Regions from separate parts of the Homo sapiens genome. Here region 2 is linked to region 1. Evidence: fine-mapped expression QTL. A gene starts in region 1. The other region holds a variant in brackets. All regions are shown on one strand. Distances are between the middles of the regions.

What was found. PIP is the estimated chance that this variant, and not a neighbour inherited with it, causes the effect.
Region 2: its variant is fine-mapped to the expression of NECTIN1 in whole blood (TOPMed, PIP 0.95).

Annotation. Positions count from the first base shown.
Region 1 is chr11:119,725,848-119,736,020 of GRCh38, reverse strand. NECTIN1 (nectin cell adhesion molecule 1) reads left to right here and starts at 6,821. Exons shown (of 6, transcript NM_002855.5): 1 at 6,821-7,546. The coding sequence starts at 7,468. NECTIN1-DT (NECTIN1 divergent transcript) reads right to left here and starts at 6,438. Exons shown (of 4, transcript NR_120587.1): 1 at 6,215-6,438; 2 at 2,271-2,364. RefSeq lists enhancers at 5,775-6,635, 6,636-7,497, 8,297-9,239 and silencers at 6,436-6,845, 6,906-7,225.
Region 2 is chr11:119,673,035-119,681,034 of GRCh38, reverse strand. NECTIN1 (nectin cell adhesion molecule 1) reads left to right here. Exons shown (of 6, transcript NM_002855.5): 2 at 2,270-2,620; 3 at 3,178-3,480; 4 at 3,816-3,933; 5 at 5,725-5,876. Among named protein-coding and RNA genes, the nearest start is that of NECTIN1-AS1, 33 kb to the left of the region's middle. RefSeq lists enhancers at 4,022-4,316, 6,837-6,886, 6,907-7,456. The variant C/T (reference allele first, on the strand shown) is at 3,693.

The DNA.
Region 1 (10,173 bases):
TCAAAGCCCTTTTCCCTTTCATCTTTCTACATAAGGCATGCTCCACACAGAAGCTCCACTCCGTCCCTTCCCATCTTCATGACCTAAGCTCTCCGGTCTATGCGGATCCTGGATGAAACCCTCTTCTCAGTATCACCGTTGAGTTTTAAGTGCTCCCATCCCTAATCAGGAGTGCCGCCTCTACTCACAACCAGAATTCTTTAGGATTTGGGACGTCATGATTCACAGAAGTATACTGAGGGCCTTCTGACCAGACACAAGGCATAGAACAATTTCCCTTCTTTCTGGAGAGTTAGATGGTTCAAGATGGAACTTGGGCCTTCCTATCACCTCTCAGAGCTCAGCCCCAAAAGCCATGCAGATCGCTGGGACACCATGGCCCACAAGGGAGAGGCTGGTGTCTGTTAACCATCCTGGCAGCACTTCAACACAGTGGATCATTGGACTGGGGAGTGGGTGCAGCTGTGTGTAGTTGCTCCATCCCCAAGAGCAATGGCAGCCAAGACTCTGCAGTGATCTCCATAGGAATAACAGTAATTAAATGTTGCTAAGCGCTGTGGGATACAGAGGCACCATCATAATCACCACAGCCACCAGCGTGATGACCATAGTAATTAGGTGCTGTGGCTTCCCATCTACCCTGGGAGCACTGCCTGAGGTGAGGTTGGCCTCAGGTTAGGGCAAGAGGGTAGCCATGCCAGCTGGGTCCTCTTTGGGGTTGGCTAAGGCTTCAGCCATACTTTCTTCATGGGATTCCTCCTCCTTTCCTCTCCCCTTGCTCTCAGCCTCAACTGACACCAGGGTAAGGACTGGGGACACAAAAGGGGGTGACCCCCATCCAGCATGCCACTCCAACATATCTTCTCCTATTGACAGATTTCAGGGGATTGGGGAATCTTGGGGAATTCTTAATAGGGCTCCTCTCACATCAAAGTGAACTTTATTAGCCAATTTCTGAATGACACAGAGGGGCCTGGGATATGACCAGGAGGGGAAGTCATTACTGTATTGACTTTGGGCCTTTTCCAAGCCCAACAGCTGCCTCTCTGAAAGAACCTGTGGAAGTCAAGGGAGGGCTCAGAGGAGAGTTTCCTAGGGATGGTACGTTCCCCAGGGCTGATCTCGTCTAGTCTCCCCACCTCATGCCTCCAGTCCTGAGGTGGGTGAGAAAGGTGAGCCCAACTGCCTGCTCTTCAAGTGGGCTGTCATTCCTGCAGTTATCAAGTCTCAGGGCCAGGAGGGAACATGGAACTCATTGCATCCATGCTCCATGCCAGGGCAAGAAGCCCATGCACAGCATGCCTGATGAACGGGCTTGCAGCCTGAGTCTGAAAAGTGACTGGGAGGTCAATCCATTGTCGGTCAACTAAGATCCCTCAACAGTCTTGCCTAGATTAAACTGAAATCTACCTCCCCCAAAAATATGACCATTGGTCCTGACTTTTCCCTATGAAGACACACAGATGATGCTTGCTCCTTTCTCCCTATAGATTTTGGAAGCTTGGTAGTCATACCCCACTTAACACTCCCTTTGGCCTTCTCAATTGTGAAGTCTGAAGCCGCTTTCCAACCTCTCTCTGCAGATAACTTCAGCTCCCACTGTACTGCAATGACCTTATTATAAACTTCCCCCTTCACTACTCCACCCCAAAACTTCCACCTTCACTACTCTCTTCACCTTCCCTCCAGGCTCAGAGAAAGATGGGTCTTCTCCTTTCCAAGGCTGACCCCTTCCCACCCTCAGTGCCCCCCAACCCAGGACTTGCTCCATAAATGACACCCTATTTCACTTCTTACACTTGCTTCTCCACTCCCTCACTGTCCACTAGCTCTTTTCCTTCTGACTACAAGATGCTCAGTAGCTTTTGATTTCCGATGAAAAAGGAGAAAATAAGCCTCTTGGTCTGTCTTGCTAACCCTCTCCGAGCTTCTCATCCACCTTGCTCATTCCGTCCGCCACCAAACTTCTCAAAAGCAGAGAGGATACCTGCTGCCTCTGCTTTTTCACCTTCCAGTTGCTCCTCCTCCCACTTTGATCTGGGTTCAGCCCCTGCCTAGTCACCAACATCCCTCTCTCAAAGGTCACTGGTGGTTTTGCCACTGCTTCCAAAGACCCCTTCTGATCCCCACCTGCTTTCTGCAGCATCAGACACTGTTAGCAACCTCCTCCACCTCCTCTATTAAATCCTCTTCTCACTTGGCTTCCATGACAACCCTCTCTCCTCACTCCCCTCCTCCTTCACTGACCAATCATCATCTGTCCATCCTACCCACGTTGTTGCCAGATTCATCTCCTGAAGCATAGCTCTGACAGTTCCCAATAAGTGCTTCTCTGTTCAGAAACTTTCCATGGCTCCCCACTGCCTGCAAAAATAAATAAATAAATAATGGAGTTGTAAAATCATGCAACTATATGTAATTCATAATATACAATAATCTGTCACGTTTTCAAACCTTTTTAAGCAGCAGAATCTTCAAAATCCATTAAGAGATATCTTTCTCAAAAGCCCAATTTTCAAGCACATGAAAACACATGCTCTTTAAATGTGGCTCCTGTTGAGCCCAGGAAATTCTAGGGTTTCCAAAACACAACTGGAAAACCAGTGAACAAATTAAACTCCTCAGTCTGCAGATGAGAAAACTGAGGTCCAGAGAGGGGAAGTGATTGGCAGAAAGTGGCACAGGATGTGAGTTAATCAACACATTTTCATTACAAGCCTATCAGGTACCAGGCATGTTCTAGGTGCCAGAGATATAGCAGAGAACAACAGCAACATGATCCCTGCCCTGGAGGAGCTGACAGTCTAATGGGGAGTGAATCAGGCACTATAAACCATCACGAAAGTGGTCCCAAGTATGCAAAGTCTATAGCAGGGGATGATTGGAAATCCCAGTGGCTCCTCCTTGAAGCCTCAGAGCAGGGTGAGATGAGGCTGCAGAAGCAGGCATGGGCCCCTTAGGCCTTGTTGAGGACTTGACACTGGTCTAAGAGTCTGGCAGGCCAAGAAATTGTTCCTGGGCATTGCAACTTGACCATCTGCATTTGAAAATAATCCACTACTAAATGTAATGTTGTATCCTGGATTAAATTGTGGAACAAAAAATAGACATTAGTGGGAAAAAACCTGGGGAAATCTGAATAAATTCTGTAGTTCAGTTAATAGTATTATACTAACACTAATTTCTTAGTTTTGATAGATGTACCATGGTTCTATAAGATGTTAACATTCAGGGAAGATGAATGAAGGGCATATGAAAACTCTGTACCATTTTCACAACTCTATTGCAAATCCAAAATTATTTCAAAATAAAGCTTGTAAAATATATATAAACCATTTTCAGGAAGGGGAAAACTGGATGTGGAGAGACAGATGACAATAATAATGATGACTAATACTTAGACAGTTTTTACTGTACACCAGGCATTGTTCCATGCACTTCACATGTTTGGCTCAAGGCTCATTTAATCCTCACAACTTCAAGAGGTAGGTGCTCTTATTTCTCCCTGTTTTACAGAGAAGGTACCTGAGCACAGAGAAGTTAAGTCACTTGCCCAAGGACACATAGCTATTGGGTGTCAGAGCTGGAGTTTAAGAATTCCAATCCAGGCAGATTAGCTCTCCAGAGTTCCATGTGCTGGACTGTTACATTTTACTCCCCATCTCAGTGCAGACTGGCTATACTGTCAGAAAGTATTGTAAAGACCAGGTAGAAATCATGAGTGCATGGACTAGATTAATAACAGGAGAAATGGAGCAATGTCACTAGACTTTATATATATATATATAAAGAATATATATATATAAAGGATATATATATATAAAGGATATATATATATATCTCAGGGGCATATCAGGGGCATATCAATGTCACTAGACTATATATATATATATAAAGGATATATATATATATATATATCTCAGGGGCAGAATCAACAAAATTGGAACATGGTGGTTCAGGAAGAGGTAAGAAGCAAGAGTGACTCCTGGGCTCACAGCTTAAGAGCAGGAACCAAAGCCTGCTTTCCTGCTGCTTGATCCTGTGTTTCTTCCCTGTCACTAAAGGAAACCTTCTGGTCCTTTTGCCTTCTGTTTGCGCCTACCTGTCCCTTTCTCTTATACATCTCTAAAACGCAAAACAAACTGGAATGCCTACTGTCCTAACACAGGTGGCACCTCTCCCACCTCCACGCACCTCCATGTTCTTGTACAAGCTGTTCCTTCCACTTAGGAGTCTCTCTCCTGCCTCTTTTGGTCCAAATCTGATCTGTCCTTCAGGGTCTCAGTTAAATGTCCCCTCCCCCAGCAACCTTCCCTGCTTGTTTAAAGATGATGAGTGAACAACCATACTATATCACTTACTTGCTTCCATCTTCTCCACCCAACCAATCCCCAGGCAGCCACATCTTCCCTGCTGGCCGCACCCTCTTTGGAAGCTCATTTAAGATCAGAGGATCAAAGAAGCCTGACCTAAAGATGGAGAGAGTGCAGCCGGGTACAGTGGCTCATGCCTGTAATCCCAGCACTTTGGGACACCAAGGAGGGCAGGTCACCTGAGGTCAGGAGTTCCAGACCAGCCTGGCCAACATGGAGAAACCCCGTCTCTACTAAAAATACAAAAATTAGCCGGGCGTGGTGGCACACACCTGTAATTCCAGCTACTCGGGAGGCTGAGACAGGAGAAACACTTGAACCTGGGAGACAGAGGTTGCAGTGAGGTGAGATGGCGCCACTGCACTCCAGCCTGGGCAACAGAGCAAGACTCTGTCTCAATGAAATAAAATAAAATAAAATTAAATTAAATTAAAATAAAATAAAATAAAATAAAATAAATAAAATAAAATAAAATAAAATAAAATAAAGATGGAGAGGATGGGAGGGTAAGAGCAGGGAACAAGAAGACATTGGTACATCTGGGATTGCCCCTTCAAACCATGCCTTCAGCTCCTGCAGTGTGCCTGGCACAGAGCTAAAGGCCATCACAATGAATTCAATTCAACCCTGGCCCTTAAAGCACTCAGCAGCCAGATGGGAGATTCCCAGCTGCCACAAACTAAATCTGATAGCGTGTTCCCCAGTTTAAAACCCTCCTAGCAGCTACCGGGCATGATTCACGAATCTGCAGACCTCTCCTTTCCTCAAGTCTTAGGCTCAGGCTAAACCAGTCAACCCTTTGTGGGCCCCCTACTCACCTGACTATTGCTTACCTTCATTCCTTTGCTCGTGCTGACCCTCTACCTTAAATCCAGTCTCTTTTATGTCTCTGCCCTCCAGCACTTACCTTGGTCTGATAGATGACTCACCGAGACCCTGTGTTCGCTTCCCTGAAGCCTTTACACCAACCCCACCCCGGGCTAAACTGGGCACTTTTTCTGTGACCCACCAAACCCACACAATCCCATATTAAATATTTGTTTACGACATCCGTTTCTATGTCTGTCTTCCCCCACCCTTCAACTAGATTGAGTTCCTTCAGGACAATGATGATGTCTCTGTATCCCCAAGCCAGGCACTGTGTTTTGACACAAAGAAAGCCCAGGTTACATTTGTTAAATGTAAAAGACCATACAGTGAGTGGGTGAGTGTTCATGACAATGCCAGATCTGACTACTTCCGCGAGAAACCGAGACACTCCAGGGCCGGATTCCAGACAGTGGGAATATGGCGCTGTCTTTGCCCCTTCTCCAGTGAGGAACCAGAATTTACGTGTTATCAGAAACAGCCACTTCCCCTCTGCTCCTGCCCGCCTAGAGGGCTGGGCAAAGGGTAGAGGGAGCAGTGTCCGGCCAGGGTCTGGGGAGAATTCGGCTCTCCTTAGTGGGAAACTCTGTCTGTCTTCCTCCCCCAGGGGGAGGGGATGGGGATAGGAGGACCAGAGTAAGGGGAAGAGGGAAGGCCCGGAGGGCGCAGTCGCCTTGGCAGAAATCCTACCACACCCGGATGTAGTGGGTGGTGAACGGGATGGGGCGGAGAGTCCCTGCCCTGCCAGGGACACTGACTGGACGATCCACTTTCGCGGGAATCCCACAAATCTCTCAAAACTAAGGTCCTGGAAACTGGAGGAGAGCTCGTTTTCAGGCTATGTTTGGGCAAGGGCGGGGCGCGGGGTGCTTCAATTTTTGGAAAAGGAACCCCCGAAGGGAGCAGGGATTAGAAAAGAAACTCTACCAGAAACCTCAGTGGGCCCGTCTCACCCACTCATGCCCACCACTGACTTCTCTGGCAGCTCCCCGTCGCCCCGCGCACCGCTGCCTCTCCGTGGAACGTCCAAGTGGTGCAGAGGAGAGGGATCTCCGGAGACTGGGTTCTGTTGCGAGCTATGCCACGTTCCGTCCCGGGCGGAACTCTTCTTTGGGCCTTTGTTTCCTCGTCTGTGAAATGGGGCCAGGGTGGGAGCAGAGGGCTTGCAGAAGCCCTGCCAGCTCCCACGCTGCTAGCCGGGATTCTCCATCCCGCCCTCTCCTCCACCGCCGCCCCCGGCCCGGTCCTAACTCCACCCCCACCCGCCGCGCCTCGGCGCCGCCGGCCGCTAGGGGTCACTGCCTGCCTTTGTCAGCGGAGGAGGAGGGCAGCCCGCGCTCCAGCCGGCTCCCCAGCTGGAAGGCGGCCGAGGGGTAGCTCCCGAGCGAGGGTCCTGAGCCGGACCCCGCAGCCCGCGCTCGCGATCCGCCTCTGCTTCGGTCGGGAAGGCGCGTGCGCTCGGGCTCCGACCGGGCCCCGGCGGGCGCGCATCGAGGCCAGGAGGGGGTTAACGCTAACCCCTCCCCTCTGGCTGACATCACGGGCGAGCGGGTGAGAGGCTGGAGCTCGGCGAGTGAGAGAAAGAGAGCGAGAGCAGCGAGCGCGGCTCCACATTGTTGCGGATCGCCGGCACCCGGCAGAGCGGCGGCGGCTGGGACGCGCGGCGCCTCCGACCCGTTCTCCTCGCGCCCGGCCGCGCAGCCAGAGCCACCCGGGCCGCCGACCGCCGAGCCCCGCGCCCGCCGCCTGGGCCCCGAGCCTTCTGCGCCGCCCGGGTGCGTCCCGCCACCCTCGGAGGACGGCCGGCCATGGACGCCTGCAAGTTGGAGCCGAGCGGGAGGGTGTGAGCGGGCCGGGGCCAGGAGCCCGCGCCGCGCAACCGGGCAGCCGGGCGCGCCGGGGGTGGGTCCCTCTCCCCAGCCCCGCTCTGCGTGGAAGAAGAGGGCGGGGACCGGCGCCGGGAGGAGAGCGGAGGAGGCGAAGGGGCATGACTCGTGCAACTTGCGGCGGGCATCTGCCGAGCCTCTGAGCCGGCGGCGGCCCGGGGCCCGGACTGCGGCCGCGCGGATCCCACCCAGCCCACCCCGCCCCGGCCGACGGCTGCAGCTGACCTGGATCCTTCGAGCGCCCGCCGACCGCCAGCGATCTTCCCTCATCTTCCGGGCTGGTTTCTGCTGCGCGAGGAGCGCTGCCCTCGCCGCCCCTCTCGCCGGACCCCCGGCCCCCGATGGCTCGGATGGGGCTTGCGGGCGCCGCTGGACGCTGGTGGGGACTCGCTCTCGGCTTGACCGCATTCTTCCTCCCAGGTAAGAGCGCTCACCTCTGCTGTCCCCACCCCCATCCAATGCCTCCCCGGGGCTGGGAGCCGGATGGCGGGCACGACTGGATTGTGGGGAGTGAAAGGAGCCAGAAAAGTTGGGTCACGGCTTGGGTAAAGGGGGTGGGAGGTGGCACGGCGGAGAAAGAGGTTGAGAAGCCGAACCGCCTGCCCTGCAGGGAAGCAGTCAGATGCACGTCTCTATGTAGCATGAAAGCACTTTCTCCGCTCAGTTCTTTACAAAAAATAATAATATGTAATAGCGTTCTGTTTATTTAATAACCAGCTCTCTGCTCGGGAAGCAGTTTGGAAACACTGCGTGTTACATAAATGCAAAATAATCACCGTAATCACCGTCTTGGGGTGGGAGACAACAGCCCCAGGGGGAGGGCGTCAGTCTCGGAGCTGCGGGTTTGGAGTATGGCGGGGGGGCTTCGTCTCTTTCGGCGGCCCCTTTGCCAGACGGCTCAGGACGCTCGGGCCCCCTCCCGCCCCACACCGCCCCACAGCGGGCGCGGAGAGTCGGCTGCTGCGGCAGAGGCGGCTCCTCGCTCACCTGCGGTTCCTTTCCTGGAGGGTGAGGCCGGGGCAGCCTCCTCCCGGCCTGGCGCGGGACCGGGCTCCCCCTCGGAACTCTGCTCCCAGCTCTGGGGGCTCTCCCTGGAGGAGACACCGCGGGCTTCCTGCCATCCAAGTAGCTGCATGACCCACTTTCCCGAGGGTGCCCCGCGTGTCCTTCCTCGAGGTGCGGGCTGCCGGCAGCCGAGGGGTTAACCTCGCGCCCGACCCCGGGGTGGCCCTGGTGGCCCATTCTGACGGGTGGGGTGGGGACGGAGGCTGGGACCAGCCCAGGCATATTGTGCTGGGGAATGAACTGGAAAATGCGTTTAGGAGGCAAATCCGACCGAGTCCCCTCGCCTGGATTTAACCCTTTGTGTCCCTGGGGAAGCTGCCGAGCTCGCCGGCTGACTGGACACCAAGCGTGGGTCAAGGGGTGTGGGGAGTTCCTCCAGCTCTCTGGGTAGAAACCAGAGACGACCTGCAGCTCTAGCAAGATGGGATTTTGGGGAGGGGGGCGGATCTTGACTGGAGCACGTGGTCCCCGCCTTGGGGTGGCAGAATAGGGGGTCAGTGTACAGAGACCATCTCCTCGTGGGGCAGGAATATTAGATCCCGAGTTCCTGCAATGTGCTTTGCCGCAGAATGGCCAGGCAGTTTGTTATCGAGGGAACAGTCTGGCTGCCTAGTTCCGGGGCTAGGGTGCACTCCTGGAAGGCAGAAGCCTGGCCTCATTCCCTTCTATGCCTCTTCTGCTGCCAGCCAGCTCACTACGAGGGCCCCGCCAATCTCACTAAGTGGTGGATGTCTGGGAAGCAGTTTGTGAAAGCCAGTACTGGGGTGCCTCCACCCGTGAAGCCTGGGGTGCTGCCCTGCTCGATGTGGGGGGTGGGGAAAATCCAGGGCTCACAGGTGTCACTGCCCACCCTGCCCCCAGAGGGTGGTCTTGGTGAGAGTGAGAGGTCTTCTCACACTGGATGGCCTGGGAAGCCAGCCAGAGATACAGAAGTTCGGGCTCTAGGACTTGCCTGGCCATGGGGATTTGAGCTTCCAGGAACCCTTCAATTACATATGTCCACATCCGGAACCCAGAGAAACGAGAGCTTCCCAGAGCTCTGGTTGGTCCAGCACACTAGGGGTTAACGTAATCCTGGGATGGACAAAGGGTGGTGGGAAGGGTTGGGAGAAGGGGAAGGAACTCACCCTATTCTCCTTCCTTTTGTTATTCTCTTTCCCCAGCTTTGTGATTCCTTCATGGTTAATTCCTTCATTGGGGGCTAGAGGCCTGCTGTGCTCCACCCACTCAGGAAGTGGGAGCAGGGAGGTGAACTCACCTGGCTCAAGGTGGATACAACCCCTGCCAAAAATCTACATGAAAGGGTGGGATGCAGAGAAAGGAACCAGGGTTGAGAGAGGTACTTAATAAATGCTCTTCCATTGACTGTAATTGACTGATGGGTAGCATCCATGCACCGAAGTTCCCGGACCGCCCAGCTCCTCTGCCCAGTGGCTGGGCTCCTGGTGCCTTCTCTGCTTGCTTGCTCTAGGGTCCACGGGTGCAGGGAGGCAGGTGGATATGGTTGTGCCCAGTCTGACACTTGGATGGAGGCTGGTTGGCCCAGAAGTTGCAAGCCCACACCCTACTTTGCATCACCTGCTGGCTTCCTCCCCATTGCCCGCTATAGCGTCTCTCTAGGGACTTGCCAGTCTGATGCTCTTTTCAGGGTTTTCCTGGGCTGTGACAGGGAACCTGGGTCTGGGGGTTTGAGGAGAGGAAGAGGGAGGGGCCTGGAGTGTGTGTGATTGCCCCCAACTTCAAAACACTCCCAATCTGGCTATTGAAGTGTAAACACAGAAGTATGTTTTCAACAACACAGACTTTACTAAGCAGTGTGGTGAAGCCCCAAAGGCCTCTGTTTCCTGAGATGACAATCCACAGTTTCTTCCTGTTAACTTAGAGGAGAGGGTCAGTGGGGCAGGTGGGTTACATCCCAAAAAGAGATAGGGGGAGCCCTAGGAGGAGGCAGAGGACCTGCTTGAGAAGCAGGTGTGTCGAGC
Region 2 (8,000 bases), 54 kb after region 1:
AGGACCACTGGGACTCGGGAGGCCAGTCTGCTGCCTTACAGAGGAGGAAGCTAGGGCTCAGAAAGGGGAGGTGACTGGCCACGGTCCCACTGCCTGCTAAAGGCAGAGGCAGGCTACAGCCCAGCCTTCCCAACTCGTGGCTGGATACTTCTCCCATCGTATTCCCAACCCATGGGGCCTCTGCCCAGGGAGCATCAGCTCCGAAGCACCCCACAGGCTGGCAGAGGGAACAGCTGGAGGAGTGAGGGTGGGGATAGGCCTGATGGACCTTGAGGGCTGTGTGGATGTGAATCAGCACAGAGAAGGGGGAACCTCAGGGAAACTTTCAGAACACGGTAGGGCCTGGCTTGGTGAAGCCAAAGATAGACTTATTCAGCAAGCATTTCTTGAGTAGCTACTTTATGCTGAGCACCAGGGATACTGCAGTGACCTAGAGACCTGGCCTGTGGCCTCTCGAGCGGAAGAGAGGGGAGCAACTTACTGCACTGACCATGGGTTTTGGGGCCCTCAGAGGAGCCTGTGTTGCTACAATATCCCCGTCACGCTGAGGAGGTGAGTGAGCATAAGCCCCAAATTCCCACTCTTGGATCCCAGACTCCCTTGGGGGGTCATTTAGATCCTCCCCCTGCCTTGGGTCAGTACAGGTCCTGGTGTTATTAATGCTATTGATGACGCTCAATAAAGTGAGTGAAGTAAGGATACAAAGACATGAAGTATACAAATGACAGCAAGGACACGGCTTGTGGGGAGTTGCAGGACTCAGGAGAGAGCTGGAGTGTACAGCCTAGTGCTGAGGACAACCGCCCCACGTTAAGGGAGCTGAGCCAAGTTCAGGGGTAAGGAAGCCCAAAAAAAGGACATTCTAAAGGGGATAACACAACCCATGTGGAGACTGGAGGGAATTTCACTCCCTCCTTCTTGCAAATGTCTGCTCTCTTGACTTCCATTGCAATTTGTGTAGTAACAAATATTTACTAGCATCTGCTATGTGCCAGATGCTGCACTGGGCACTGGGGATACAGAGATGGAAAGGACAGACCCTGCCCTTGGAGGAGTTCACAGTCTGGTGGAGAAATCAGATGTGTAACCACCACCTTCCAAGGCAGGAAAGAACCAAGGTAGAGGTGGCCAGGTTAGCTCTGGTGGGGAAGATCAGGGAAGCTCCCAGGAGGAGGTGGCCTCAGGGGGCCATCCACAGGTGGAGAAGGGGAAGGGCCATCTAGGTGGAGGGAGCTGCCTGGGTAAGAGTCTAGGAGTGTTGGGTGGATAGGCTCTGTGCTCCATGGAGGCCGGGACTCAATTGCTCCTTGATATGACCCAAATGCTCACACTAGATCCTGGAATATGTCACTCGGCAAATCGTGGCTGAATAAATGGGAGGAAGAGGGAAGGAAACCGGGAATGTGGCATGTTCTGAGGATGGGCCCAGTCTGGTATGGTGGGAAAGTGTGGCTGATGGAGAGATGTGGACAAGAGGCAGGTGCAAGGAGGTCTTGCCAAGAGAAGGCATTTACATTTGGCTGTGAAGGCCATGGGGAGCCAGCGGAGGCCTGGCCTTATGCAGTGCCCACTTCCCTCTGCCTAGCTGGGTAAGAGGGGCCCAGCTAGTGCACCCCAGGGGATGGGGACTCAGCTGCGAGGGAGAAGACAGCAGGGGTGGCCATGATGACAGCCACCGTGGGCCTTCAAGCTCATCCAGAGCCTCCTGCCTCTGACGCACCTTCTCGTCCATCACGCCATTTGTTTCCCCCAGTAACCTCGTGAGGTAGAGAGGACTGGATTCTCCACCCCATATAACAGAGGAGGAAACCAAGGCCCAGGAAGACAAAGCAGCCAGTGCATGGCTCCTAGGCTGGGGCTCTGCTCGAAAAGCAACCAAAAATGAGGGTGCAGACGTATGTTTACTAACACAGAGTGATGTTTATAATCTATCCCTAAGTAAAAAAGCAGCTTATGGGATAATATGTACAGCATGATTCTGACTTTTTAAAATAGATAGATGGTTATGTGGATATACACAGATATAAAGTAAAAGGAGATAGATCCTTCAAGATTATCCTGAGCGGAAGGATCATGGGATGTTGTCACTTTCTTCTCATGATTTTTCAGTGTTGCCTAGAGTGTTTTTATAACAAGTAATTAATATTTTTACAATCGGAATAAAAACAATAATGACTGCTATAAAAGACAAGGCCAGAGCACAGGGAACTGTGTGGGTGGGGGGAGGCTGTGCCTGACACTGACCACTTGCTGCCATCCTCCTGGCCAGGCGTCCACTCCCAGGTGGTCCAGGTGAACGACTCCATGTATGGCTTCATCGGCACAGACGTGGTTCTGCACTGCAGCTTTGCCAACCCGCTTCCCAGCGTGAAGATCACCCAGGTCACATGGCAGAAGTCCACCAATGGCTCCAAGCAGAACGTGGCCATCTACAACCCATCCATGGGCGTGTCCGTGCTGGCTCCCTACCGCGAGCGTGTGGAATTCCTGCGGCCCTCCTTCACCGATGGCACTATCCGCCTCTCCCGCCTGGAGCTGGAGGATGAGGGTGTCTACATCTGCGAGTTTGCTACCTTCCCTACGGGCAATCGAGAAAGCCAGCTCAATCTCACGGTGATGGGTAAGCTGCCCTGGGCCCCCTCCCTGTTCATCCAGAGGCCTGTGACCTCGGGGCGTGGCCATCCTCAGGATGCCTCAATGACCCCAGACATCCCCCTTGGGTGGGCATGCTGCCATCATTCTAGGCATGAGGCTTCCAGTCCCTTCTAGCCAGGCCACCCCACAATTCACTAGGGATTAGGGGCAGGGGCTTATCTCTAGACAGTGGGGAACGTGATTCTTCAGGTTGAAGCCCACAAGGCACTGTGCTGGCAGCAGCATCAGACACCACGGTAAGGAAAGGAGCCACCTGCGCTGCTTGCCTTAGACATGCTGGGACTCCAGGAGGCCTAAGCTCGATGACAGGGATATGACTAGTAGGGCAGGGAGGACATAACGTTAGACATGATGAACTTCCTGCAAGAGGTTCTGGGACAGTCTTTGGTGCAGCACAGCTGAGAGGCAGGGATGGCCAAGGGGACCTGAAGACAAGGCCTGACGGATGCCACGCCCTTTTGGCCGGTGCATCTTGGACAAGTCAACAGGGCTAGTCCCATCACTCTCTCTGCTTCCTCGCAGCCAAACCCACCAATTGGATAGAGGGTACCCAGGCAGTGCTTCGAGCCAAGAAGGGGCAGGATGACAAGGTCCTGGTGGCCACCTGCACCTCAGCCAATGGGAAGCCTCCCAGTGTGGTATCCTGGGAAACTCGGTTAAAAGGTGAGGCAGAGTACCAGGAGATCCGGAACCCCAATGGCACAGTGACGGTCATCAGCCGCTACCGCCTGGTGCCCAGCAGGGAAGCCCACCAGCAGTCCTTGGCCTGCATCGTCAACTACCACATGGACCGCTTCAAGGAAAGCCTCACTCTCAACGTGCAGTGTGAGCAGGGCTGGCTGCCAGGGGCCTCCTGGGGTGGGCGCCACTGTCCCTCCTCCCTCCTCCTCTCCTTTCTCCTCCCTTTCTCTTTCTGGGGGTGCTTTCTTCTCCCCTCCTGTCTCCCCTATCTCCTCCCTTTGCTCGTTTTCTCTCCTCCTTCCCTGTCGCCCTCCTGTTTCCACTCCCGGGCTCTGTGATTGCCACCCTCCCACCCA[C/T]ACTTCCCTCTCTCCTGGCTGTTTCCATGCCACTGCTCCTTCCATCCCTTCCTGGCTGAAGTTCCCTTGTTCTAAGTCCCGCTCTCCTGACCTCACCCTCTTCAAACATCCCTTGCCCCACAGATGAGCCTGAGGTAACCATTGAGGGGTTTGATGGCAACTGGTACCTGCAGCGGATGGACGTGAAGCTCACCTGCAAAGCTGATGCTAACCCCCCAGCCACTGAGTACCACTGGACCACGTAAGTGCTGCAGGGCTGACCAGTCACCTTGGAAGACAGCTGACTGGACCACGGGTGATGAGGGGCAACCATCCTACCTCCAGGAGCCTTTAGGCAGGGAAGAAATTAGGGTCTGGGCTCAGTAAGAAGCGGGGCCATGAGAGAACAACCCCCACCCCCAACACACACATATACATTACGTCCATGTGTGACAGTGTCAAGGTCAATGGAACAAGCTATTCTGCCAGAGGGGTTTCCTTTGTGATCTGCTTCCCTCCCTCTTCCTAATAAAGAGTTTTGTCGTTTTCCTTTGGTGATTCAGTCTGAGTCACTCCCACCCCAACCCCCCAGTATTTATTTTTATCAAGGTGTCCCCAGGGAAGCCAGTGTTCTGGAGCATCTCAGCTCTTTCTTTGTCCCTATTCCTTCTCTCTGGCACCCCCAGATTCTTGGGGAGGAGGCAGCAGCCAGCCTAGAATGCCTGTGCTCATGGAGCACGTGCCCTGCGGCCCACCATCCCCTTCTTGGCCTCACGGTCTTCGCCTTGCCTTGCCTTCGCCTTCTCCCCTCCAGCCGGCTCTGACAGCTGGGGCCAAGGCTCTTCCCAGAGAAGAGCTGGATGGAACACACAGAAAGACAGGGACGTGGGGAACCAAGGAGAAGGTTGATATGGGTGGCCAGGAGACAGCTGCCCAGAAGGAGTCTGCCTTCTTTTTCTGGGGAGCAGAGGGCACTGGTATGCCCTACCTATGATCCTCCACTTCCTGGAATAAAAAGTGCTTCTGAAGGTGTGAGTGGGCAGAGCCTGCTGGCTGGTTTCAGCTCTGTGGACCCAGGAGCTGCTAGGTTCAACAGAATAGCTTTGTGGCCTTTGAGGGTCAGGAGGAAGGAAGAAGATCCTTTGTCCTTGGCAAATTTGCAAGTCACTTCCCACATGAAAAGGTCCTGTGACATTCCCAGCAAAAACACAAAGTAGTGGAATGGAACATACTTCCTATCTCGTTACCTGAGTGGCTTGTCAAATACAGATTCCCAGGTCTTTGCCCCAGTGGTTCTGCTTCAGGAGATCTGGGGTTAGAACCAAGGCATCTGTATTATTATTTTTTTTTTTTTCTTTGAGACGGATTTTCACTCTGTCACCCAGGCTGGAGTGCAATGGCGCAATCTTGGCTCACTGCAACCTCCGCCTCCCAGGTTCAAGCAGTTCTTCTGCCTCACCCTCCCGAGTAACTGGGACTACAGGCGTGCACCACCACACCCAGCTAATTTTTGTACTTTTAGTAGAGATGGGGTTTCACCATATTGGCCAAGCTGGTCTCAAACTCCTGACCATGTGATCTGCCTGCCTCGGCCTCCCAAAGTGCTGGGATTACAGGCGTGAGCCACCACACCTGGCTGGCATCTGTATTATTAACCAGCTGCCCAGGAGACCAAGGACCAACAACCATGAGACGTGAATGGAAAGTAGAAAGAGCACTTTACCAGGAGTCCCGAGAATTGGCTGGAGCTCCCATGCTGCTGCCTGCTAGCTGTGGTTCCCTGGCCTTGAACCTCAGGTTTCATCTGTTAAGGGGGACCGGCACCTACCTAGCCTGCCTATATTCCCATATTATGATCAAATATGAAAAGCTGAATAATATAAAACTACCAAGTGAAAGAGATTATTATTATTATTTTTCTTCCTTCAAAGACAGACTCTACCACACAAGCTCAGCAAAAGGCTAGGGGGCCTGGAGCCAAGTGGGTGACCCAGGAACAGCTTCTTGAGGCTGGAGAGTCATAACCCTACGCTGTGTCTCCCACTTCCCACAGGCTAAATGGCTCTCTCCCCAAGGGTGTGGAGGCCCAGAACAGAACCCTCTTCTTCAAGGGACCCATCAACTACAGCCTGGCAGGGACCTACATCTGTGAGGCCACCAACCCCATCGGTACACGCTCAGGCCAGGTGGAGGTCAATATCACAGGTAGGAAGCTGCATCCTCCCCAGCCTCTCCGCACCCACGGGTTCCTTCGCCACCTGCATCCCTCACCTTTGAGCAATGCCACTGCAGGAAGATTATCTCCTTTTCCTGCTTCTCTAGTTCTCCCTTGAGCTCTGGCCATTGGTTTTGCTTTGCTTTTCTCTTTCTTTCATTAAAGGGTGCAAATGAGACAGTCAGGGTGACCCCCAATCAGAGAGGGGCAGGAGGAAGGCTCTGAGAGGGAAGAAGGAAGTGCTGTTTACAGCAATGCTGTTTTGGGGGCCAATAGAACCTGCCCGTAGATCTGCCAGCAGAACACGCTGTGGGATGCTGGCATGGTGGGGATAGGTTTGCAGGTGGAGCTCATCTCCTCCAAGCTCTGCACCTGTGGTCAAGGACCTCTTCATGGGCCAGAAAGTGAGGCTTACCTCAAGCAGGGAGACTGGAGAGAAAGCGAAGATGTAGCCCAAAGCCATAGTGCTTTGTGTGCCCTGCAACTGAGCTTTCCCTGCAGCTTTCTGTCAACTTATCTATCCGGGCAAAGGGAGGACAAGAGCTAGGATGTTCTGAGGAGAGACTTCACCTGGGACGTGAAAGGAGCATGGGCTTGATGTCAGACAGCTGTGACCCTGGACAGGGCCCCCCCCACCATCTGTAAAACGGGGACAGTATGATGTACCTTGAAGGGCTGTTGTCAGAATTCTACGTGATGTAAGTCAAGCACCTAGCACAGATCAGTCTGTCAATAAATGGCCAATGTTCCGTGATTATTACCCTGACCTCCATCATCATCATTATTATTAATGGAAGCATCAAAACAAGTCCACACAGGGGTAAACTGCCATCACAACTTCACATGGGGAGCGTCTTTTACAGTGGACCTGAGCTATCTGCAGGGTGACAGGGTGACCGAGTGTCTTAAAAAAGGAAGTGGTGTCCCACTGTGACTGAGATATAGGAAGTAACATGCTCAGGGACACAGAAGACTGGTCGGCAGTTGCTGGGCTCCGGCCACAAAGCCACTGCACACCTGCAAGCCACGAGGATTCATGAGCTCTGAGCCAGTGTCTCGGGAGTGGGAGACCTCATTTGTGGGTATATTTAGGACACAGCTGCAGAAAGAGCCACGTGAAGTTGTCCAGGGTCTGCGCCTACCTGTCCTCAGAGCCGTTCTGTCACGTCTCTCACCCAGGGGCGGGAGTGTGGAGCCACCTGCTGTTGTCTGCAATCCCTGGCCTTGGCCCCGAGACTAGTCATAGGAGGAGGAGCATCAGGGTTGGAGCCTGGGGAAAGCTGGGGGGTTTCCACGGGTTGGCAGGTGGAAGGGGCCGGTGTCACACACTTCTCCCCAGCGGGGAAGGTCCAAGTACAGCTCAAAATGAGCCTCATGGTTACCCAAGCTCCAGCTCTGAGATACTGGGGGAGTCAAGGGGGAGGTGGGAAGGGCAGGGCCTGTGTTCCATGTGGAGTGGCCATAGGGAACATGACCACCCCTCAGGGAGGCACTGTCACATGGGAGACAGCACAGACCTGGCCTGAGTGTTCACACACTGGCTCTTCCTAGCTGTGTGGCCTTGAGCAAGTGCTTCACCTCTCTGAGCCTTGGCTTCCTAACCTCTGATATGGGGATACTCACACTTGTCTCAGGCTTCTTACGATCATGCAGTACTCCCTGCGTGGTGATACCTTCCCCTGATGGTGGGCTATCAACATGTGAGGGGTGTGGGCTGGGGGCAGGAGGGCCGGGCCACCTAGGGTCCCAGCTGGAAGAGGGACACAACATGGCTCTTGCTGGCAGCCCCGTTAGGCAGGAGCCAGGGACGCATGGCACTCACTGAATCATTGATAGGCCCAGGCGCTGAGCGGCTGGCCTCTCTCGGAAGGGACTCTCAGCCCCCTCCAGAGGACTCAGGGAGTTGGCCTGAGCCTTCTCAGGGCTGTTTGTTCTTGTGCTCTCAGGCAATTTCCAAGCAGCAGCTGACCTCACCACCCTCCATTCCACGTCGGCCCGTGCCTGCCACATTCTCTGGGGAGCCCACCCCGCAGGGCACAGCCATGCCCTTGCTCTAAGCCCCACTGGTCCAGAGGGAATGCATGAGCGAGAGGGATAAGTGGAAATTTAATTTT